Linked DNA regions of Homo sapiens. The protein of the gene in region 2 interacts with the protein of the main gene of each other region in a biochemical or structural test. Each region holds a gene or a part of one and is shown on either strand. Other genes may lie near its edges.

Region 1 (3,500 bases), on a different chromosome or scaffold from region 2:
ACCCAGCTAATTTTTGTATTTTTTAGAGAGATGAAGTTCCACCATGTTGCCCAGGCTGGTCTTGAGTTCCTGGGCTAAAAGCAATCCTCCCACCTTGGCCTCCCAAAGTGCTGGGATTACAGGCATGAGCCACCACGCCCAATCCTTTTTTCTTTAATATTTTTTGTCATTCTTTCTTCTTTTTTCTTTCCAGGCAATGTGCCATGGGACTTTTCTTTTTTTTTTTTTTTTTTTTTTTTTTTTTTTCAAGAATTCCAAGGAAAGGCTGGATGTGATGGCTCACATGTGTAATCCCAGCACTTTGGGAGGCCAAGGTTGGAGGACTGCTTGAGACCAGGAGTTTGACAGCGGCCTGGGCAACAGAGACCCAGTCTCTATAAAAAATAATTAAAAAATAATAATTCCAAGAACAATCAAGTGTTTTGTTTTTGAAGAGCTAGAAAGGAACACTCCTTCCTAGGAGAATACATAAGTCCTGTCTGAATAATCCTAAAGAAGATACAGAGTCTCTGACCTAAAAGCTAGCTACAAAAAGTGATCTTTGGAGTGGATTTAGAGTTAGCACAACACTTGCTGATTTTACTTCAATCTACTCCAAAGCATCCATGCTTAGAATTCATATCAAGATAAGGAAGTCAATGAACACAGCCCATACCTCTGAGGATGAAGTCAGCAGGAGAACTATTGTGAACAAAGGATCCCATGTGGCCATTCCCACTCTATGGTGGCCATCTAGCAGCCATGGCACTGGAGTGGGTGAAGTCACCGCAGGAACCATGAGACTACAGATAGCTAGCTACTCACCCAAGAAAGACCGGACAGTGGTGATAGAATCTCTGTGGCCATTCCTCAGGGGCGGTGGAGGAGGAGGGGGTGGCCCAGCTGGCGTCCTTGAGGGTGGAGGTGGGGGCTTTCCTCGGCTCGGGGGTTCTGACCCATGCATTCGGTATGGTGGTGGGGGAGGGGGAGCATCCCTGGCACCATTTCGGATCACAGGTGGTGGGGGTGGAGGAGCTGCAATTAAAATCCAAAGTAGTTAGGTTTGGATGTGGAGACGGCAAGGGGTAGAATGACTTGAAACACATGAGCTAAAAGAGTAACACACCCCACAGAGGCTCACAGTGCCTGGTTCCCCTTTGTCCTTATTACTTGAACAGCATCACCATTCTTCCAGATACCAACATTCAGAATAAATGTATGGCCTTTTTACATTTCCTACCAGTCAGTCAGAACCCTATCTGTTCTTGATTTTTTTCCTGCTTTTCCATGCCTTCCTCCACAATTCTAATTCAGGTCTTCCTTATATTTAGCCTGTTCTCTACTGCAAAAGCCTTCCGAATGTTCTCCTTGCTTTGTCTCTTACCCCTCCAAATTCATTTTGCATAACACCAACTCACCAACCTCCCTAAAAACTTGATCCAGTTTTTTCAAAGGCTTTGCACTGCCTAAATCATAAAGTCTCAAACTGTGGCTGGGTGTGATGGCTCACGTCTATAATCCTAGCACTTTGGGAGGCCGAGGCGGGAGGATTGCCTGAGCTCAGCAGTTGGAGACCAGCCTGGGCAACATGATGAAACTCCATCTCTACTAAAAATACAAAAAATTAGCCCGGTGTGGTGGCGTGTGCCTGTAGTCCCAGCTCCTCAGGAGGCTGAGGCACAAGAATCACTTGAACCTGGGAGGTGGAGGTTGCAGTGAGCCCAGATTGTGCCACTGCACTCCAGCCTGGGCAACAGAGAGAGACTCCATCTCAAATACATAAATAAGTAAAAAAATAAAGTCTCAAAGCCTTTGCTTACATAGTAACCTACCACACCAATCAGCTTGAGCTTGGCTTCTCCTCTTCCCTTCTTATTGCTAGGCTAGGTTAGGAGCCCTCCTCTGCACTTCCACTGCAGCTTGTGCATACCTACCACTTGAATAGACTATTATAATTATTTATTCTGTGTGCTCTTTCCCCAGTATACTGTGTACCCCTTGATGTCAGAGCAGTTCCTCCTTCTGGGTTCCCAAGTTCAGCCAAATGTACAGCACACAGCAGGTGCTCAATCAATGTTTGCTGAATAAACCAAATTATATGCTTTGCTCTTGTGACTCCCCTCACAATATTCTGATATCCCCCCTTCCCTTACTACCAAATCCTCCCTACCCTTCAAGGTTCAATCCAAGTCCCATCTTCTCAAGGCTTTCCCAAAGCAATCCATTTTCTTCTGAGTCCCTCCACCTCTGCTCTCCCACAGCATATACAGGCTATGTCACTTACTCTAATATCAATGAGCGATTTTCAAAATATATACAGCAGATTCATTGTGGGAAGTTACATATGTCCAGTAACAGTCTCATTGCTCAAACACTGCAAACACCTCTTTTGGAATTGCCTCCAAAGCAAGTTTATCAGTCAGAGCTGTAAACACTATTATATGATGGTCACATTTCATTTCTGAGGTCGCCCCACCACCATCACCAATGAAAATATTCATACCTATGCCAGGCACGGTGGCTCACGCCTGTAATCCCAGCACTTTGGGAGGCCGAGGCGGGAGGATCACCTGAGGTCGGGAGTTCGAGACCAGCCTGATCAACATGGAGAAACCCAGTCTCTATTAAAATACAAAAATTAGCCAGATGTGGTGGTGCATGCCTGTAATCCCAGCTACTCGGAAGGCTGAGGCAGGAGAATTGCTTGAACCCAAGAGGCGGAGGTTGCGGTGATCCAAGATCGTGCCATTGCACTCCAGCCTGGGCAACAAGAACAAAACTCTGCCTCAAAAAAAAAAAAAAGAAAATGTTCATACCTATGTCTGAATCTGCTTTTTGGTGATTCCAAAAATCAAATTCACTCTTAAAAGATGAAAATTTGCCACCAAGTAGAAGGTAACGTCAAAAGCATGTGTCAAGAAATGGCAATATGACTGGAATATAATAGATTCTAACGTGTTTGTCTTACTCCTATGCTCTGTATTAACTAACAATAATAGCAGCTACCATTTATTGGGTATCTATTATGTTCCAGGCATTTTCGGTGTATTAAATCTTTAAAAAGTCTTATAGCCACACATGCGAAGTATGTAATATTATCCCCATTTCACAAATGAGAAAACTGGGACTCAGGTTATTTGTTTAAGGTCACAGATCAAATAAAAATAGGCAAGGCACATGTCTGCTCTTTCTACTCTCCCACACTGCTTTTCGTAACTCCCAGTATTCTGCATAGTATCTTCCCAACCAGATTTACAATCCAGTGGCTTGGAAGTGCATCTTTTGGTATCTAGGCCATGTTCAATTTTTTTTTTTTTTTAAGAGACAGGGTCTCACTCTGTCACCCAGGTTAAAGCGCAGTGGTGGAATCATAGCTCAGTGCAGCTTCAAACTCCTGGGCTCAAGCAATGCTCCCGCCTCAGCAAAGGGCTGGGATTATAGGCATGTGCCACAGCACGTGGCCCAATAAATAGTTGTGACCTAAATAGTATGTGAAGAGACTACTCAGCTTAACAGACAAA
Region 2 (3,500 bases):
CACAAAGGAGCAGAAAAACAGCTTTTCTAGATCAGTACACTAAACCCAGCCAAGAATCTGCAAAAATGCTACTACACCGCTTCACAAGCAACACAGTCCCTTCACTACTCATTGGGTTGCACGATGTCTCTCTTCTACCCTGTTATGGCCTGTGGACACATACTCACTAGGCATCATTGTTGGTTTTAAACCAGGGATTTTTTTTTTTTAATCTCAAAAAACCTAGTAATAACAAGGCAATCAGTGGTTAAACTGAACTTTACATATAGGGGGCAGTTTGGAAAACACATACCACAAGCATTTCTCAAGTCGAAAATATGTGAATTTGCTGCTGCTCCTTTGACGGTTCCTGAAAATTCAGAGTACAAGTCCTAAAATAAAAATTTTAAGCTACCAGCATTCTCTGATACTAGACAGAAAATCAGAGTAACGCTACAGCCCACAATTCTACAGGGTGTAAAAAGTACGCTCACTGCCTGGACATCTTTATTGATGGCCTGGAGTCCTCCCTTTTAGAAGACAAGTTTCTGGGATAACCACTTAGCTTCATTGGTTAGGGAAGAGAAGAATTCGACTCTCAGGTAAGTTGAGAAGAGACTCCTCTTAAAATGCCATTTCTCCACTAATTTATCAAAATAAAAACAAAACAAAAGGCTCTTGGCTACTTTGCCTAGTATTAGATAGGGTTTTGAAGAAACTAACATGAACACCCTTTCATCAGTAAAGACTAAAAACCACCTGGAAAATATATATATATATATATATATTATATTATATATATATATATATATATATATATATATATATATATATATATATATATATATATATATATATATCACTGCTGTTTTTTTGGTGTTGTTTTTTGTTTTTTTTTTTTTTTTATCTAAAAGTGCCCAGGTGGGCTTAAGGCTGCCAGACTGCACGCACATCTACAGCAACAAGGGCTTCTATTCCATCTACAACTTGGATCGGGGGAAAAGGGAGATGTAGGAGAGGAAGGAAAAAAGAGGGGAAAAATATACCACCAACCCTCCCCCACAAAAAAAGGGAAAAAAAAAATCCCACCACAGGGAGATCTATGTGCCAAGCATAATGGAAGAGTGTGCTCCCCAAACAGATGGTTTTGCACAGGCTAATGTTCTGCTGGTTTTCCTTAGAGACCTATTTTGAAAAAGTTTAAAAAGACAGGAGATTTCAAAATAATTCAATCCTGGCAGAAATTCAAACTCCAAAACTAGGAGCAAAATCATCCTTCACTGAATTAATTCCTTTTCTCTTTCTCTTTTCTTAAACATTTTATTCATTTTATAGAGAGATTTCTTTTTTGTTTGCTTTTGTTCCAATCATTAGGAGAGTGGTTGAGGAGTACTGAATCCATCACTACTTTGATGACACAGGTAATATTCCAGATTCACATTTCCAGGTACCAAGAGTTCCCTCTAAATGGCACAATCAAGTCAGCCTTCGTTTACATTTCCTTCTACTGAACACAGCAATGCCCATTGGTATCTCTGAAGCGTAATCGCATCTTAGGTCGGTATTTCTCCAAATAAAGCAGCTGTTTGGAATTGAACGCTCCCCTTCTTTTTCTGAAAATACAAGAATGGCAAACTTTATCATGTAAAAAAAGAGCTGTCTGATTCACTGAAATGCATTATTTACATCCTAAAGCCTTTCTAATTCCACACAGCTGAAAACCAGCATATTTCCCATACTACAACAATTCTTAAAGAGCTAAGTTGCAACATGAACTTTCTAAGCCCTCCTAGAAGGAATAGAAAAATTTTTCTTGCTGACTGTCATTATAGTCTATTAACCATTTAATAAAGATCAGAATAGTTTCTACTTTCGTTTTCTTTTTTTAAAGGAAGGGTTGAAAGGGAAAGGGCAAGACAAAAATTGTCAAAGAATTCTGGATAACAAAATAGCATGATTCGTTATTCCAGATCAATGTCAAGATCCTGTCTGTGCACTACCATCCTGATTTTGTCCCTGAATAGATCACTTAAGAGTCCCAGGTGAGGCCAGGCGTGGTGGCTCACGCCTGTAATCCCAGCACTTTGGGAGGCCGAGGTGGGCGGATCACGAGATCAGGAGATTGAGATCATCCTGGCCAACATGGTGAAACCCCGTCTACTAAAAATACAAAAATTAGCTGGGCGTGGTGGTGCGTGCCTGTAGTCCCAGCTACTTGAGAGGCTGAGGCAGTAGAATCGCTTGAACCCAGGAGGCAGAGGTTGCAGTGAGCCGAGATTGAGCCACTGCACTCCAGCTTGAGCAACAGAGCGAGACTCCATCTCAAAAAAAAAAAAAAGAGTCTCAGGTGATTAACTGCTCCTCTACACATTCTTCTTGCCTCCTCCTAACAGAGAATTATATTTGGAAGGTATTTGGAATCTATTAAAAGGGGCATTTTTGAGATTCCTAGATACTCAAAACAATATACTGGACACAGTCTATAATGTCCAAATTAGAAAACTTTTGAATCTGGAAACCAGCTGTACTGAGTCTCTATCACTTGCTCTAAATTTTTTACATCTTCAAATAATACTTCAAGCCAAAAAAAGCAAATTATCCCATACTATAAATGAATATCCCTTCCATAATTCCTTCCTCATGCATGATCTTGCTTTCTGTGTTTCTGAACACAAAAACTTCATACTCACTGTCTTATAAACTGAACTGCATCTTCGTACTTCATTCCACATTCAATCAAAGCAAGTGCAACCAGCACAGGTGCCCTGCAGAAAGAAACCTGTATGTAAGTATCCATAAGTCTTGGAGTGAAAGGATTTTTAAAAACCTGTAACTGCATATTACCAATGCAACGCATGAGCTTTCTTTTTCCTGTATACTAAAGTAGCTGGTATCTGCCTAATACAGTAAATATATCTCATCATCATTAATTCTATGATTTTTTTTTTTGGCGGGGCAGGGGACAGGGTCTCGCTCTATCACCCAGGCCAGAGTGCAGTGGCACAATCACGGCTCACCGCAGCCTCAACCTCCCAAAGCTCAGGTGATCCTCCTGCCTCAGTTCCTCAAATAGCTCGGACTATAGGTGCCCGCCACCATGCCCAGCTAATTTTTGATTTTTAATAGTTAGTAGAGACGGGGTTTCTCCGTGTTACCCAGTCTGCTCTTGAACTCCTAGGCTCAAGCAATCTGCCTGCCTCCGCCTCCCAAAGTGCTGGGATTACAGGCGTGAACCATAGCGCCCAGCCTGATTATCTACTTTTAGTAAAGCACTAAATTCTAAACCTTAAGAAATCTTTACTCTTTAAAACATCACATTATATATTAAATTCTCTCATCACTAGATATGATCAAAAATCCTTCATTGGCCTTTAGCCATTATCACAGTAAAATAAATGACCAAACATATTACTTATCTCCAATGTGTCAGAATTTTCATTACCAATTGATTTTAATATTTCCTTATCAAATGCTAAAAAGGTGCTAGACGTTTTCAAGAAAATCCTTTTGATGAGCTAGGA
Region 3 (3,500 bases), on a different chromosome or scaffold from region 2:
AAACTTCTCTTTTGCCTCAGATATAATAACTGATTTATCAGTTAAACTGAACATGTGGCTTTAGCGTTTCTGAGGTAAACTCTATTTATTATTTATTTATTTTAATTTCAACTTTTATTTTAGTTTCAGGGAATATATATGCAGGTTGTTACAGGGGTATATTGCTTGATACTGAGGTTCGGGGTACAATTGAACCCACCACTCAGGTAGTGAGCATAGTACCCAGTAGTTTTTCAATCCTTGCCCCTGTCTCTGCCTCCTTCATCTTTGTAGCCCCCAGTTTCTATCATTCTCATCTTTATGTCCATGTGTCTCCAATGTTTAGCTCCCACTTATACATGAGAACATGCGGTGTTTGGTTTTCTGTTACTTTTCAGATCAAACTTTTAAACAGAGGAATTATAGTTACCATATTTTCTTGAGTTCAGATGGTGGTAGAAAAGGATTTATTGGCTGTTTATGTGTTAAGGAGTGCTAAATATGCTACTCCGTTTTTGGTGGAAAATTTTTTTAAACCTGAAAATGGGGAGTAATGCCAGCATGAACATCAGCTTTTCCAGAGTATCCAGTTATTTGAAATAGAGGCAGAACTTACTTTCACATGGTATCACACCAACATTGCTGTTCAAACACTGCCTCCTAGGACTTGCCACAGAATGGCCTTCTCTCTCAGCAGATTTATTCAACTTTTCTTCAACATATCTGTGCTAGTTATACCACAGTGAAACAAAGGATAATGTCCTTGTGATATTAGAGAGTTTGGGTTTCAATTCTGCAGATAATGGGACTTGTTAAAGGTTTACATATAGTGTACGTGATCGGAATGATATCTACAGTGATAGTTGTAGAATAATAACTGATGGTAATGTGAAAATATTATTAGAGGATGAATGTTATTGGTAGTTAAGATGGAGGGGTATCCAGATGAAAGGTGATTAAAGCATGAACTAACATATCAACAGTAAAGTGGAAAGCAGGAGAAGATAATTTTTTAGTGTTTATGAGCAAGAGGCTCTGCTACTAAACCCAGACCGGCAATTGTCCTGCAATGAATAAAAGAGACAGTTATATAATTAATATGAATGTTCTGAAATATAAATTCTACTAGTAGTTCCAATTTCTCCTCTTAACTGTCAGAAAAGAGGCCACAGGTGCAGTGGCTCACGCCTGTAATCCCAGCACTTTGGGAGGCCGAGTTGGGAGGATCACCTGAGGTTGAGAGTTTGATACCAACCTGGCCAGCAGGGTGAAACCCTGTCTCTACTGAAAATACAAAAATTAGCCAGGCATGGTGGTGGGCGCCTGTAATCCCAGCTACTCGGGAGGCTGAGGCACGAGAATTGCTTGAACCTGGGAGGTGGAGGCTGCAGTGAGCCGAGATCATGCCACTGCACTCCAGCCTGGGCGACAGAGTGAGAGTCTGTCTCAAAAAATAATGTCAAAAAAGAAAATAATTACTTGTATGTCCTGACTTTCACTAATAAGCATTTATTGAGGACCTACTGTGTGTATATCAAGCCGTTTATAATTGGTGATATAATCCAGAGTGGTTAGAAGATGAGAAGAGAAATAAATAAAAGTAATAATATTAATCTCTAAACTGTATAGTCATCCCTGAGTAATCAGCTATTAATATCTATTCCAGTAATTCTTTACTTTCCATTAATATTTTAATCATTAGGATTATTATTGCTTATTTGCATTTATACCATCTTGATTGTGCCCTAAAATAGCCTTAAGATTTACTTATTAAAAATTGAAATTTATTCCTGCTTCTAAATGAAAACCGGATTAAAGTCTTGTTCTCACTTTGCTATTCTTGAGATTTTTCTCTACCCTTTCAATCTTCTACCTAGATTCTTCTTGATTTTTTTCACTCCTATCATATTCTGCTACTTTATCACTAAAACCATAGGGAAGGGGATGTGTGTAAGGTCAATTCTGCATTAGCAAAGTAGGAGCCCTTTAGTTGATGTCAGTGGTTGGGGAGAGGAGGGCATGAAATATTTGACTTGCTCTAAGTATTGTAACCATGTAGGATTTGAAAATTTTTTATTGGCATAGTGAGGTGACCTGAAAGAGAACATGGTTACTGTTAGAATAAGCTTAAGGTGTTGTATGATAAGTTGGTTTTAAAAAGCTTCACTGTTAACTACTTTATGCTCTGCTCAAACTGCTAAAATATCTAATCTACATTTTAATAATAGACATGGTATCTATTCGTTTTTAGAATTAGGGAGCTATTTGCAAAATTGTTTCAGTTTCTTGAATGGGAAGCATTGATTTTATTTTTGTTACTTTCCCATTTTTCAGAGCCATGCTAATTTTTCTTGCTATTTTCTTGTCTTTTTCCCCTTAAATTATCAAAAAAATTTTTCTCATAAATTTCTTATATTAAGGTTAATTTGTCTCATTTCAAAACACCAACTTCCCATTACCAATTTTTTTTAACAAAAGTAGATTTAGAAAATAACTCTCTTCACATTAAATTCATATTTGCCTTTTGTAAATTTGTTTGCAAATACTGTGGTGAGATGCATGTGTAACATATACCCCATACTTTAATAGTTTGGGGTATTGTTTTATCTCATTTCATTCAAGAAACATTTACTGAGCAAAGGTAAGTGATGATCACTACACTAGGTACTAGGGATACAACAGTATAAATACTGTATAAATAGACACCATCTGTGTTCTTAGGGAGTGATGTCATCTAACCGGACACTTTCTGATAAAGTATCTATAGGAATAATATTTATTAGAAAGAGTGAGGTGGGGAGATAGAAGATCCCATGAAATTATATATGGCAACACATCTTTCCCTAATCTAGGGGTTTAGAGAATACCTCACTTAAAAAAATTCTTTCAAATGAGACCTGAAGGATAAGTACAAATTGGTTCACAAGAGTGGAACCAAAAGGTTACGAATGTATATTTTATGGTTTTTCATGTTTTTTATGCATTTTTTCCAAGTTTAGCCTTGAAAAGTAATGGAAGGTTAATATGGTTTTATTTGTTTATTTTTACACAGGCAACAAGAATGGGTGAATCAGCAAAGGGAAGATATTGAAAGGCAAAGGAAACTTCTAGCCAAACGCAAACCTCCCACAGCTAATAATTCTCAGGCACCCTCTACCAATTCTGAACCAAAACAAAGGAAAAACAAAGCAGTCAATGGAGCAGAGAATGATCCCTTTGTTAGACCAAATTTACCACAACTGTAAGCCTCCATTTAAAATTTTTCTTTTTTAAAATTGTTGCCAGTGAGCGTGAATGTTACTAATGGATGTTATTTATAATTAATACTTAGATAGCAAAAATGATTAAGACCAGGAAGGAAGGCAGTATTGAAAATTTAGCTCTAAATTAATAGCCCCAAATATCTGAATTCTACCGTTTTAAGCAGAGATTTAACAATTCTCTTTTAAAACAGAGACCTAGGTAGCTAAGAGGTTACCAGAATTCACCCTTCTGTGTCTGAATCAGTTAGGAATCAATTA
Region 4 (2,790 bases), on a different chromosome or scaffold from region 2:
TGCCACCTGAAACCAAAACCCAGTATATTATTAATACAATGCTTCTGACTTGCTAGTTGTAAAGCTACCTACATAATTAGGAAGAGGCAGGCCTCCCTTTTACTTTTCATTCTATGGCTATACTTATTTATCACTGTCTGATAAAAGCAGAGATAAGCAAACTGCTGCCTGTGGGCCAAATCCAACTCATAGCCTCTATTTGTAAGGTCTGTGAATCCAAAATGGTTTATTTATCTTTAATTAGAAAGAAAAAATATCATACAAAAAACATTCCGTGAAGCATGAGTAGCATGTAAAATTCAAACTTCAGTATCCATAAGGAAAGTTTTATTAGAACACAGGCATGCCCATTTGTCTATACCTATTATGCTCCAAGAGCAGGCAGTGTTAGGTAGTTTTGACAAGGACTTCATGGGTCCACAGAGCCCAACATTTACTATCTGATCTTTCCTGCCTGAGACCATCTAGAGCAGGCTCTTCAGCACTGGGCGCCAACTATGAGCAGACAATTACCAGAACATTCATGTCTAAGGTAGAAAACTAAAGCCAGGTGCAGTAATCCCAGCACTTTGGGAGGCTGAGACAGGCAGATCACCTGAGGTCAGGAGTTCGAGACCAGCCTGGCCAACACGGTGAAACCTCATCTCTACTAAAAGTACAAAAATTAGACAAGCGTGGTGGCGGGTGTCTGTATCCCAGCTACTCAGGAGGCTGAGGCAGGAGAATTGCCTGAACCCAGGAGGCGGAGGTTGCAGTGAGCTGAGATCAAGTCACTGCACTCCAGCCTGGGCGACAGACCGAGAGGCTCCATTTCAAAAAAGAAAATAAAGAAATAGAATAAAAAATAAGGTAGAAAACTAAAGAGGGCAAAGAGGAAAAGAAAAAGGTAACCTACAAAGACAGGAAAATAAAAATGGGAAAAAAAAAAGAGCTTGCACGTGCTTCCCTCTCATTTCTTTTTTTGGTAACACCTTGACTGGTGATACTCATCAAAATGGACAGTTCTCCCTTTCCAATTCTAATATTCTGTGCTTAAAGAATGAGCATGAATAATAGAAAAGAAACTCAATTTCATTCGAAATATTTACTAAACACCTATTAGGTGTCAGGTACTATAATGCATGCTGTTTCTAATAAATTTTTTGTTTGTTTTTAAAAAGAGATAGGGTTTTCCTATGTTGCCTGGGCTGGCTTCAACGCTCCTTGCTCTCCACTCAACTTCTCTAGTAGCTAGGACTACAAGCACACTCTGTGGTGCCTAGCTGTTTGTAACAAATTTTAATCTACATAATTAAGAAGTATAATGCTTGAATATAGTTTCATCAATTTTTTTTTTTTTTTTGAGACGGAGTCTCGCTCTGTCGCCCAGGCTGGAGTGCAGTGGCGCTATCTCGGCTCACTGCAAGCTCTGCCTCCCAGGTTTACGCCGTTCTCCTGCCTCAGCCTCCCGAGTAGCTGGGACTACAGGCACCCGCCACCGCGCCCGGCTAATTTTTTGTATTTTTAGTAGAGACGGGGTTTCACCATGTTAGCCAGGATGGTCTCGATCTCTTGACCTCGTGATCCACCCGCCTCGGCCTCCCAAAGTGCTGGGATTACAGGCGTGAGCCACAGCGCCCGGCCAGTTTTTTTCTGAAATATAAAAAGCAAATTTAAGAACATGTCAACCCAGGCCTGGTGGCTCACGTCTGTAATCTCAGCACTTTGGGAGGTCGAGGTAGGAGGATCATTTGAAGCCAGAAGTTCAAGATCAGCCTGGGCAACGTGGCGAGGCCCTCTCTCTACACACACAAAAAGGCAAAAATTAGCTAGGCATAGTGGTGCGTGCCTGTAGTCCCAGGAACTCAGGAGTCTGAGGTGGGAGGATCACCAGAGCCCAGGGAGGTAAAAGCTGCAGTGAGCCGTGATTGCACCACTGCACTCCAGCCTGGGAGTGAGACATTGCCTCCCTCACCCCATCCCCTCCCCCTAAAAAAGAACAGAACATGTCAAAGAGAAGCCAGTACAACATATCAAATATTAAGAATATAGTTAAGAGTTTCAAGAAAGAATGCTCATACCTATCATTCACCAAACTCTAATAAGCCTATTATATAATAAGATGCCACAATAAACACTGTGTTACTTAGATTCAAATACAGACATCTCACCAATCTCCTTTGATTTTTGATTCTGAAACTGAGTGTCCTCAGGCTCATATTCTAGCTACTGAGCCCATCTGGCCTTAAGGGTAAGCCACATCGTGCTTAAAAGACACAGCCAAAGAGAGAATGAACAAACAGAAAAGAGATAGAAGAGACTTATCCCAAATCAGGTGATTTGTTTTCAATTTTATCACCACAAAATTTTCTTGCATTTTTCTCAAAGTTTCTCTTATTTTATAAACACCTTAAAATAACTGTTCACAGTATTTACTTGACAAGTTTTACTTCTGTTCTTATAGCCGTTAACACAGCATACTTAAACTAAATAAAACCTTTTAAATTATGTTTCATCTTTATTGCTACTCAACAGACGTTTTTGGCTTTTGCAGTACGCAAGGGTCTTGGTCATAATTACCAATGATCACTCTGTAGAGGACTGTAAATGAAATCCACGTATTTGAATATTTGAATTTGGAGGTGCTTAGTTTTTAGATAAAGACTAAAGCCAACTGTATGTACTTTTGGATCCGCTCAATTGCTTCCTTTTAGTACTCTGTTATGACAATGTATTTCCAATTAAGCCCTAGATTCAGAGAAACTTTAATGCACTGATCAATATTCACATTCCTGAAGAAACAGGTGCCTA
Region 5 (3,500 bases), on a different chromosome or scaffold from region 2:
TCTACCTTATTCACTGCTCGATCTTCAGCATCTACAACTGAGCGTGTGACATTCCAGATATCAGCTAAAGTTGCCTAGGGCACAGATGAGTGGACAGCAGAATGGCACCACAGAGTGCATGCCACCAGTGGTGGGCTGGCGTTCCCCTGTGGCACTGGGCCTCATGCACCCTTCTCAGAAAGACACCTGCACAAGGACCAGTGCTGGGAACCGGCCACAGCCTCTGCTGCTTTGAGCCCCCAGGGGCTTGCTTAGCAGGAGCCCTGCTGCCCAAAGATACCAGAGACATAAGAACAAGTCACTTTTCACTTCAGCTCTTCCAACAGTCCAAGGAAAGAGAAAGACAGGGGTGGACTCTGGCCCCACTGAAGGCGCCTGGGGGGTGCCGGGAGCTCTTGAGGGCCTCTCACCTGCCCCATCCCCACAGTTACAGGCCCAGTGTCAGCACTGACACTGCCGGGGCTTCCCTCTGAGAAGAAGGAGGCTGCTTACATGGAGATGCGCTCTCCTCCCAGCTGGAGATGAGATCAGGGAGGACGGAGGCGGAGGCAGACCCACAGAGGCAGCTCCAAGCACCCCAAAGTGAGGTCCTGGAAAACTAACTCTAAATAAATATCAGACTCCTACAAACTCTTTTGCAGAGCAACTTCCAGCCAGGAGACTTCTAGTTTAGCTGGATATTTCCCTCCAACAGCTCTGCAGCTGCCAGCAGGGGTCCCATTTCATGATAAAGAAAATGAAGTTCACTAAAGATTAGAGAACTTGCCAGAGGGATGGACAGAGCTGGAAGGTGAGCCTTGTCCCCTCACAGATCAGGCCACAGTTCGAAAGCTGTTCCCCAATGCTGACCCTCCACATTCCTCTCCCCTGTCCCCTCCCTGAGCCTTGGTCTTCTGCAACTGCTCATGCCTGGGTTGGACTCCACGACAGCAAGAGGGAAGAAGAGACAACAGCAGCACCCTGAGAAACAGTGACACAGCATCGGCTTCCAGCTGAGACAGCGAGCTGACAGTCACGTGCCTCTCACACTCAGAATGGATTCTGATGGAGAGACCACCAGCAACAGCCCGAACACTGACAGTGACGATGGTTGATGAGAGGGGGTGACAGGTGATTTTAATTCCCTCTTTTTCTTCATTGCTCACATTTTCTGCAGTAAGCATCTGCTATTTTTAAAATGAGAAAAACATCAAATGTCCTAACGGCGGCTGCAGTGGCTTTTGAGCGCTGAGGAAGCAGTCTGGGAACTGAAGCCGCTGTGTATCCGCTCTCTGGAGACCTGAGGGGCGGCCCCGACGCCCTCCAGGGCTGAGTACCTACACTCACACACACGGCGGCATTTCCTCACGGTAAAACACGCTCATAACATCAGCCCTGTAAAGCTGCAGGCCATTAAGTCAAATGACACTTGTAAAATGTTTAAAAGCTGCCTGGCACAGAGCCAGGGGCCCCATTTGCCATCATTATTATCATAATCGCTCTGGTATTATTAATGTTATTGTAATAGCCGCATGCTACACACAGAGAATTTCCTGGAGTTTTCCTAGGGCTCACACACCCATTTTTATTTAATTAATTTTATTATTTTAAAAGTTTATTACCAAATCTGCCTTGATCTTGGATCACATAATTCTTAAATGTACCGTCTAGAGCAGGCTAGACGGCTCATCAAAAGGGAACCAAGACCATGCTTGGGAAGGATCTTCTCAGAGCAGAAAGGTGCTGGTGCCCAGGGAAGCACAGGAGAATGACAGGCTTCCATGAGATGGACGCAGACAGTCATTTGGGTAATCGTGGTAGCTGCATTTAAGTGTGTCTCGAGGAAACAAATAAAAATAGGTCAGCTTTCAAGTGGTCATGGGTTTGAGCCAGGCTGTGGATCAGTCTGATGCTGAGATCAGATGAGAACACTTCTGAGCAGACTGAAAACCTCCCAGGGACCTGTTCCTCGACACTGGCCCTCATCGTAGAGCCTGCACGCTCCGTGCCGAAACTCCTGCTCTGCCCCCATGAGAAGGAATGTCCACCACCGGATGACCTTGCAGTTCAGTTCATCAACACATTGAGGGACATGGGAATGTCCCAAAGGTGGATGGTGGTTGTCACCGGCTACAAAGGTGGAGTCTCTACAGAACATTTATTGAAATCACATGCAAGTACCAAGCAATTGCTCAGCACAGATACCAAAACAAAGCCACACCAAATGAACAACAACCCTGACACGTCAAACAACTGTGGCAGTGCGACCTCTCCCTCTCTCTGGCTCTTTCCTATCAGCATTTATTTTTTATTTATTTTTATTTTATTTTATTTTATTTTATTTTTTGAGACGGAGTCTCGCTCGTCACCCAGGCTGGAGTGCAGTGGCATGATCTCGGCTCACTGCAAACTCTGCCTCCCGGGTTCAAGCGATTCTCCTGCCTCAGCCTCCCGAGTAGCTGGGATTACAGGTGCCCGCCACCATGCCCAGCTAATTTTTGTATTTTTAGTAGAGACGGGGTTTCTACATATTGGCCAGGCTGGTCTAGAACTCCTGACCTCAGGTGATCCACCCACCTCGGCCTCCCAAAGTGCTGGGATTACAGACGTGAGCCACCATGCCTGGCCTCCTGTAAGCATTTAAACCTCTCCCGGCTGCCCTGTTTCTCTTCCTGCGTTCCCTTGAGGCTCTCCCAGGTCCACTCCAGGCATGGCCCTGGTGTGCCTTCAGCAGCAGAACCTGGGGGATCCAGAGAAGTCACATTCTTGGGCTCACCAGAGACCTGCCAAATCAGAATCTCTGGGGTGGGCCCAGCAAGTGAGGTTTAAACCAGCTTCCCCATGGGTGGAAAGCTTGCTAAAATGCAGACCCCTTTACAGCAGGTCTGAGCTCCTAATAAGTGCCCCGGTTTGGTGGGGGTCTGCACCCCTCACTCACCCTGACCCTTTGCCCTCTGACCCTGCTACTTCAAAGGTCCCACCAGGGTCCTCATCTTGTGGGTGTCCAGGCAACATCTCACCCTGCAGGTTACTCCCTTTCTGCAAATGTTCCCCTGGTCCCACCCTCTACAGCTGCTCCTCTTGGGTCCTTCCCAGTGATCCACTCCCTGCCCAAGAAGTGTTCAGAAAGGGGACCGGAAAAAGCCCCCAGACATGAATCGTGGGGAGGAGAGAGGGGCATGCACCCCTGCTCTCACCAACTAGGAGCCAACACTGCCCACTCCCAGAGACCAGCGCCTCCTCCCACAGGTGAGGGCTTCCCCTCCCACTCCCCGTCCTGATCACCAGCCCCGGAGGTCCAGCTGCAACTCGTTCACAAAGGTGGCCCCCAGGCATCCTCTCTCACCCCCAAGAACAGCATCTCCATCTTCCTCCTTACTGGGAGGGAGGTTATTCATTATTAGGGGCATCCAACATCCCTCACAATGAGCCTGTGGGGTGATCAGACAGCAATATTGCCACCCAGAGCACCCACACTGGAAATGGCTTAATCTCCACCCCAAGGGTACTGCCTAAGGCTC
Region 6 (3,500 bases), on a different chromosome or scaffold from region 2:
CACTGCACTCCAGCCTGGGCGACACGGTGAAACTCCATTTCAAAAAAAAAAAAATAGAACAACACACAGGTAGCCCAGGCAGCTACTGTACACCTGGCCAAGTGACTGTTTGTACCAGGGACAGTGGGCACTAGCTATTCTAAAGAAAATAGGAGTTGGGCGTGGTGGCTCATGCCTGTAATCCCAGAACTTTGGGAGGCCAAGGTGGGTGGATTACGAGGTCAGGAGTTCGAGACCAGCCTGGCCAATATGGTGAAACCTCATCTCTACTAAAAATACAAAAATTAGCCAGGTGTGGTGGTGCGCGTCTATGGTCTCAGATGCTTGGGAGGCTGAGGCAGGAGAATCACTTGAACCTGGGAGGTGGAGGTTGCAGCGAGCCAAGATTGCACCACTGCACTACAGGCTAGGCGACCGAGCGAGACTCTGTCTCAAAAAAAAAAAGAAAGAAAAGAAAAAGAAAATAGGATATGGAGGCAAAAGCAGATCCATCAGGGCTCTGCTTGGGAGGCTACAATGTGGTCACTGCAAGCTTCACCTGCTGAGGATCTGCCACAACAGAGTGAGGAGGCACAACGAAAGGAAGCAGCATCAACTCCGTGAACACCACTTTACGTTTTAAGGACAAGCAGGGCCTCCCACGATGGGCAACTCTCAGGAGTCCCTCCAGGCAAACACTCACTACATGCCACTTGCTATGCCTGGAGCAACCCAGACTCCTTGATGGACATCCCAGCTGGGTCCCTTCAGGAGGAAGCCTTCATCTAGACTGGCGTTTAGGGACTCCCCAAGACCTGCCCTTTCTGAAAGAACACCCCAACTCATTTCCATCCCCAGAAGGGATGAGATCATGGTTGACAAAAGAAATTTTAAGGAGAGAGAGAGAGAGAGAGAGAGAGAGAGAGAGAGAGAGAGATCCTTAAAATTTATATATTTATTATTATTAAATATATACATATATATGTAAAAATAAGATATATGTACATATATATTTTTGAGATAGAGTCTTGCTCTGTCCTCCAGGCTGGAGTGTAATGGTGTGATCACAGCTCACTGCATCCTCGACTTCTTGGGTTCAAGTGACTCTTCTGCCTCAGCCTCCGGAGTGGCTGGGACAACAGGCATGTGCCACCATGCCCAGCTAATTTTTTCTATTTTTGTAGAGATAGGGTTTTACTATGTTGCCCAGGCTGGTCTCAAACTCCTGGGGGCTCAAGCCTCCCATCTCAGCCTCTCAGAGTGCTGAGATTATAGGCATGAGCCACTGCACCTGGCCCCAAGGACATAATTTTTAAAAGAAAAAAGGACATGGTCACAGTATGTGATATTTATGGACCAAAAATAGAAAACAATTTAACACTCAACTTTAACGTAATAGTTAATCAGATTACACCTACCTACTCGGTGACATATCATGTAAGCATATAAAAAGAATTTACTATGCCTTATGTGGCACAAGGAAATGCTTCTAACATAAAATAAAGCAGGACCAGCCAGGCGCAGTGGCTCACACCTGTAATCCTTTTGGGAAGTGGGGCAGGCAGATCGCTTGAGCCCAGGAGTTTGAGACCAGCCTGGGCAACATAGCAAAACCCCATCTCTAGAAAAAATACAAAAAATAGCTGGGCATGGTAGGGCATGCCTGTAGTCCCAATTATGCAGGAGGCTGAGGTGGGAGGGCTATCTGTGCCCAGGAGGTGGAGGTTGCAGTGAGCTGAAATTGTGCCACTGTGCTCCAGCCTGGGGGACAGAGTGAGATCATATCTTAAAAAAATAAAATAAAATAAGAGCAGTACCCACAATTCTATCCACCTATAAATTATTAAACTACACAAAATCAGTAAGCTGATAAAAATTAAACATTAATATGGTAGGATCTTGGTTGACTGTTTTTCAAAATGTTATTTAAATGTTATATTGTTCTTGCAATTCAAGCCAGAAGGAAAAATAAATCCATCTCTATTCTTTCACAATTGTGTATGTAAAAAAATCTCAAACAAATCTACAAAAGAGCTACTAGAATAAGTGAGCTTAGCAAGGTTTATTACAAGGTCAATCTGTAAGTCAAATTTCAAATATTACAAGGTAAACCTACAAATCAAATAGCAATCAAATTTCTATATATCAGCAATGAATGGAAAGTTTTTAAAAGTACCATTTCCTATAGCACTAAAAGCATGAAAAACTTGGCGTAAATCTAACAAAGTATGTGTAGGATCTGTGTTGAAAACTACAAAACACTACATCAGTGAAGTGACATACTGCACTCATGAATCAGAAGACTTGATATTGTTAAGATGTCAATTTTCTCAAACTAATCTATAGATTCTACAGATTTGATAGATCTATAGATCCAAGGCTCTCTCACTCAAAATCTCAGCATGAATTTTTTAAAAAACTTCATAAACTGATTCTAAAATTTATATGCAAAAGCAAAGAAACTAACAATTTTGGAAAAAAGAACAAACCTGGAGGACTCATATTTCAAGATTACTATTAACCAGTAATCAAGACTGCATTGCTGGGCGAGGCGCAGTGGCTAATGCCTGTAATTCCAACACTTTGGGAGGCCGAGGCAGGTGGATCATGTGAGGTCGGGAGTTTGAGACCAGCCTGGCCAACATGGTGAAACCAGTCTCTACTAAAAATACAAAAAGACCGTGCTGCTGAACGAAATTTAGATGTACAGACCAATGGAACAGAATGAGAGTCCAAGAGTCCAGAAATAGACCCACAGTATATGGTCAACTGATTTTCAGTAAAGGTACGAAGGCAATTCAATAGAGAAAATATAGGCCTGGCACAGTGGCTCACACCTGTAATCCTAGCACTTTGGGAGGCCAAGGCGGGTGGATCACCTGAGATGGGGAATTCAAGACCAGCCTGGCCAATGTGGTGAAACCGTCTCTACTAATAATACAAAAATTAGCCAGGCGTGGTGGCACATGCCTGTAATACCAGCTATTTGGGAGGCCAAGGCACAAGAATAGCTTGAATCTGGGAGGTGGAGGTTGTGGTGAGCTGAGATCGCGCCATTGCACTCCAGCCTGGGCAACAAGAGCGAAACTCCATCTCAAAAAAAAAAAAAAAAGAAAGAAAGAAAGAAAGAAAGAGGCCGGGCGCGGTGGCTCACGCCTGTAATCCCAACACTTTGGGAGGCCGAGGCGGGAGGATCACGAGGTCAGGAGCTCGAGAACATCCTGGCAAATACGGTGAAACCCCGTCTCTACTGAAAATACAAAAAGATTAGCCAGGCGTGGTGGCGGGCAACTGCTCGGGAGGCTGAAGCGGGAGAATGGCATGAACCCAGGAGGCGGAGCTTGCAGTGAGCTGAGATCGCGCCACTGCACTCCAGCCTGGGGGACAGAGTGAGACTCTGTCTCAAAAAAAAAAAAAAAGAAAGAAAAAATGGTTTTGTTTTTGTTTTTGTTTTTTAAACAAATGGTGCTGGAACAATTATATATTTATATGCCATAGAAGAATAAGAAACCTTAACCTAT
Region 7 (3,500 bases), on a different chromosome or scaffold from region 2:
AACTATTCTAAGAATTAGAAGAAATTGTATTCCGATACTGAGGTTGGGTGGGATACATGAAAAACCTATGATAATTTTTTTGTGTTCAGTGCTGTGTAATGTTTCAGGCTGTCTCCCCCTGCCCTTTTATTATTGCTGTTATAAAAGACTCTAATAAAGTCTTAAAGATATCAGAGCTCTTATTTTCAAACTGTCTTTAGTTCTCCAAATTATATATAGTCCAGTTAAGGGGAAAAACCTGTCTGTAATTTATCTCATTGAGTACCAGTGTCCTGATTTTGATGGGAAGTAATTCCTAACCTCTTCTAGGGTGTTTCTCAAATAGGATGGGAAATGTTTATCTAAACTTTCTAGTGGTGTTAATTGCAGCTGTGGGAAGAGCTGGAACTAAGGTTATGCAGTTTGGATTTTTTAGCATAGAATTTTGAAATTGTGAGATAAACTTCATGTATTAAAGCCATTACATTTTTTAAAACAAGCATGATGTGAAAGTTAATGTGGCCTAGATCTAGCCTTCCGAATCCTTAGATCATTTTACAGGAATGAGACGGAGTGATTTATAGGCAAATTAATGGTTCTCTAGAGCCATGTATCACATTGTCGTTGGTTGAGAAATCCCCATCATGACTGTGGGCCTAAAAAGTACAGGTCATTCTAGTTTAGAGACTAGTAGCTTTGATGAGCTGGAGATTGCACTTAGTAATAATAATGTTTGTATAAAATTCACAGTTTATAGAGTGGCCTTCTTGTCTCCCTTAATCCTCCCAAGAACTTTTGGGGTATAAAAACACCAAAATTAAGCCTGATGAGCAAACTGTGTGAACAAAACTTAGCAGGAGCCTAATTGGTAGTGCGTGGGTTCAAGCACACATGCTGCATTTTTCCTTACCTCATACTGCCTTTACACATGAAAGTTATCGGATAGTCATTGGAGGGAATACATAGAAATACACTGTTCTCTTCTAGGATTTTTAAAAATTAAACTTCAGAAGAAAGGGGTTATATAAACCTCAATTCAATGGAATTCTTAAAAACTTCTTAATTTTTACGTTGAACAAAAGTTTTGGTTTGTGTAATATTTCTTACCACCTTTTTCCTTCAAGTTGTCAGCACATAGTAGGTGTGTTTTCTTTTTTTGCCACTGGTCTTTTGTTTTTTTGTTTTTTTGTTTTTTTTTTGGTCATTAAATCATTTTGCTCTGTTGATTTTTGTTCATTTTGCTTGGCTGCTTTTGTGGGTACTACAGATTAATTAAAAGGTTATTTATTAACCCAGTGTCTATTGCTGTAATCTTTAGCATGACAAGGCCCTAACTGTTGCTGCATAGTTTTATGACATGAGTTATTGCCCTGATCACTTTTAGTTTTTTGTTTTTTTAATTGCCCTCCTTGTAAATCTTATAGACGTGTCATGTAGTGGGGTGTAATCGGTATATGAACGGTAGGGTAGATGGTATTAGATTCTAATTTAAATAAATGAATGCCTTATGTGGTTGACCTTAGGACTCTGCAAAAACTTAAGCAGTTCAGATGAACAACATGCCAACTCAAAAACTTTTATTGCTTGGGGCTTCCTGTTTTCTGGAACTATGTATACTTTCATACACATTTTAACTCAGCAGTTTTGACAAGGACATTACTATCTCTGTGTATAATTTCAGAATTTCCTTTTAATATTTGAGGTAGAGAAGAAAGAGTATTATTATATTCTGTGCTACAAATGGTGATTGTACAAAAGGAAGCTGATACTTGTTTCTGGCCAGTACATGAGGACACTTTAAGGCCCTAAATCTTAACTAAAATGGGCAGTCTTGATTCAGGATTTATTTTAAATATGGAAGCTTTTTCTTTAGTGAGATGTAGACTTTTTTTTTGGATATAAATGCCAGCACCTAGACCAAAGTTTTGTTTTGTTTTGTTTTTTTAAGATAGGGTCTCTGTTGCCTAGGCTGGATCTTACTGCAGCCTTGACCTCCCAGCCTCAAGCAGTCCACCCACCTCAGCCTCCCAAGTAGCTGGGACTGAAGGCTCACGCCACCATGCCCAGCTAAGTTTGTTTATTTTTTGTAGAGGCGAGGTCTCACTATATTGCCCAGGGTGGTCTCTAACTCCTAAACTCAAGCAGTCCTCCCACCTCAGCCTCCCAAAGTGTAAACCAAACTTTTTATTGCATGGCTTAATTGTACCCATTGACCATGAGGAAGAAGAGTCCAGCACCAGGAATGGTTGTAACACCTCCTACAGGAAAGGTACTCTAGTTAGGAGCTGCAGACTTTCGTGGTTTTGGTCATGCTCCACGCCGAAGTCCCGAAGGGAAAGGCATGGATCCTGCCTGGTCTGGCAGAGGCAGGAGCTAGGGATAGAATGCATCTTGCTTTGCAGCATACCTGTGAAACCAGGTTTTTTCTGACACCTGGTTAGTGAAATACTGAAGGGGAGGAGAGACTCTAGGGTTTACCTCCAATATTGCTGAGCAGGAAAAAGGCCTTTTGCTTGTGGTAGGTAAGTAAGAGGAATGGAGCTGAGTAACTTGATAACGAGGCAGGAATCTGCTTTATGATGTGAAAACATTACCTTTTAAATGTTTGTTTGGAGCAATATCGAAGTTTAATTTTAAATAATTTACAAAAAAAGGATAAACTGTGTTAAGCAACTATAATTTATAGCTTATTTTTATTAATCATGTGCTCAAGTAATTAAGCTTGTGCTTCACATGATGTTAGTGCTTGGGACCAAAAGAAAGTGATTAAATTAATTACTACCCAAATTACAGGTTTTAGTGCTAGAACTAGTACCTGGATCATTTTCTAATTATTTTAAAATGCTATGTCATTTGCCTTTTACCTTTTCTTCTGGGATGTTTTATTCCTGCTTGAGGGTATTTTGGGGTAAGTTTGTTTACAAACTTGTTAAGACGACCTGCTAGCAAAATCAGTACAGACTTGGCAAAAACAGACTTGTCTCCTATTCACAGCATTCAAGAGGGGGCAGAAGGAACCCTGTTTTCTGTAGCATGACATGCCATTTCTGTTAGGTGTGGTTTTAGAGCAAATGAGACAGTTACTTTACCAAAAACTAGGTACATTCAGAGAACTTAGGCTTTAAATACCAGTTTGTTGCTACTCTTGCGGAAGGGGGAATATTTAAAGGGATTCAATATCCTGATGGTTTAAAGTAAGTGGTTTACAAATTGTTCTGATAATGAGTGTCTAGGCAGATCTCTGAGGGGACCTGAAATCTGATGCAGCTCTCCTTTGTTCTAGGTTATACTACTCCAACTGCCCCCCAGGCATACAGCCAGCCTGTCCAGGGGTATGGCACTGGTGCTTATGATACCACCACTGCTACAGTCACCACCACCCAGGCCTCCTATGCAGCTCAGTCTGCATATGGCACTCAGCCTGCTTATCCAGCCTATGGGCAGCAGCCAGCAGCCACTGCACCTACAAGGTAAGGCCATGGTGTCCTTAATGCGTCAGTCTTATGTTGGAGGGAAAGAAA

Evidence for each region.
Region 1: the proteins of PTP4A2 (region 2) and WIPF2 form a complex in vitro, tested with the Homo sapiens proteins (one large-scale study listed by BioGRID).
Region 3: the proteins of PTP4A2 (region 2) and TLK1 form a complex in vitro, tested with the Homo sapiens proteins (one large-scale study listed by BioGRID).
Region 4: the proteins of PTP4A2 (region 2) and DHX15 form a complex in vitro, tested with the Homo sapiens proteins (one large-scale study listed by BioGRID).
Region 5: the proteins of PTP4A2 (region 2) and CARS1 form a complex in vitro, tested with the Homo sapiens proteins (one large-scale study listed by BioGRID).
Region 6: the proteins of PTP4A2 (region 2) and AKAP8L form a complex in vitro, tested with the Homo sapiens proteins (one large-scale study listed by BioGRID).
Region 7: the proteins of PTP4A2 (region 2) and EWSR1 form a complex in vitro, tested with the Homo sapiens proteins (one large-scale study listed by BioGRID).

The regions. Positions count from the first base shown.
Region 1 is NC_000017.11:40,271,304-40,274,803, reverse strand, and holds part of WIPF2 (WAS/WASL-interacting protein family member 2), read right to left. Parts: intron 1,015-3,500; coding exon 805-1,014; intron 1-804. UniProt on the Homo sapiens protein: Plays an active role in the formation of cell surface protrusions downstream of activated PDGFB receptors. Plays an important role in actin-microspike formation through cooperation with WASL.
Region 2 is NC_000001.11:31,907,369-31,910,868, forward strand, and holds part of PTP4A2 (protein tyrosine phosphatase type IVA 2), read right to left. Parts: intron 2,745-3,500; coding exon 2,670-2,744; intron 1,593-2,669; coding exon 1,484-1,592; 3' UTR 1-1,483.
Region 3 is NC_000002.12:171,045,894-171,049,393, reverse strand, and holds part of TLK1 (serine/threonine-protein kinase tousled-like 1), read left to right. Parts: intron 1-3,031; coding exon 3,032-3,220; intron 3,221-3,500. UniProt on the Homo sapiens protein: Rapidly and transiently inhibited by phosphorylation following the generation of DNA double-stranded breaks during S-phase. This is cell cycle checkpoint and ATM-pathway dependent and appears to regulate processes involved in chromatin assembly.
Region 4 is NC_000004.12:24,529,765-24,532,554, forward strand, and holds part of DHX15 (ATP-dependent RNA helicase DHX15), read right to left. Parts: intron 7-2,790; coding exon 1-6.
Region 5 is NC_000011.10:3,050,924-3,054,423, forward strand, and holds part of CARS1 (cysteine--tRNA ligase, cytoplasmic), read right to left. Parts: intron 1-3,500. UniProt on the Homo sapiens protein: Catalyzes the ATP-dependent ligation of cysteine to tRNA(Cys).
Region 6 is NC_000019.10:15,405,489-15,408,988, forward strand, and holds part of AKAP8L (A-kinase anchor protein 8-like), read right to left. Parts: intron 1-3,500. UniProt on the Homo sapiens protein: Could play a role in constitutive transport element (CTE)-mediated gene expression by association with DHX9. Increases CTE-dependent nuclear unspliced mRNA export.
Region 7 is NC_000022.11:29,274,768-29,278,267, forward strand, and holds part of EWSR1 (RNA-binding protein EWS), read left to right. Parts: intron 1-3,262; coding exon 3,263-3,449; intron 3,450-3,500. UniProt on the Homo sapiens protein: Binds to ssRNA containing the consensus sequence 5'-AGGUAA-3'. Might normally function as a transcriptional repressor. EWS-fusion-proteins (EFPS) may play a role in the tumorigenic process.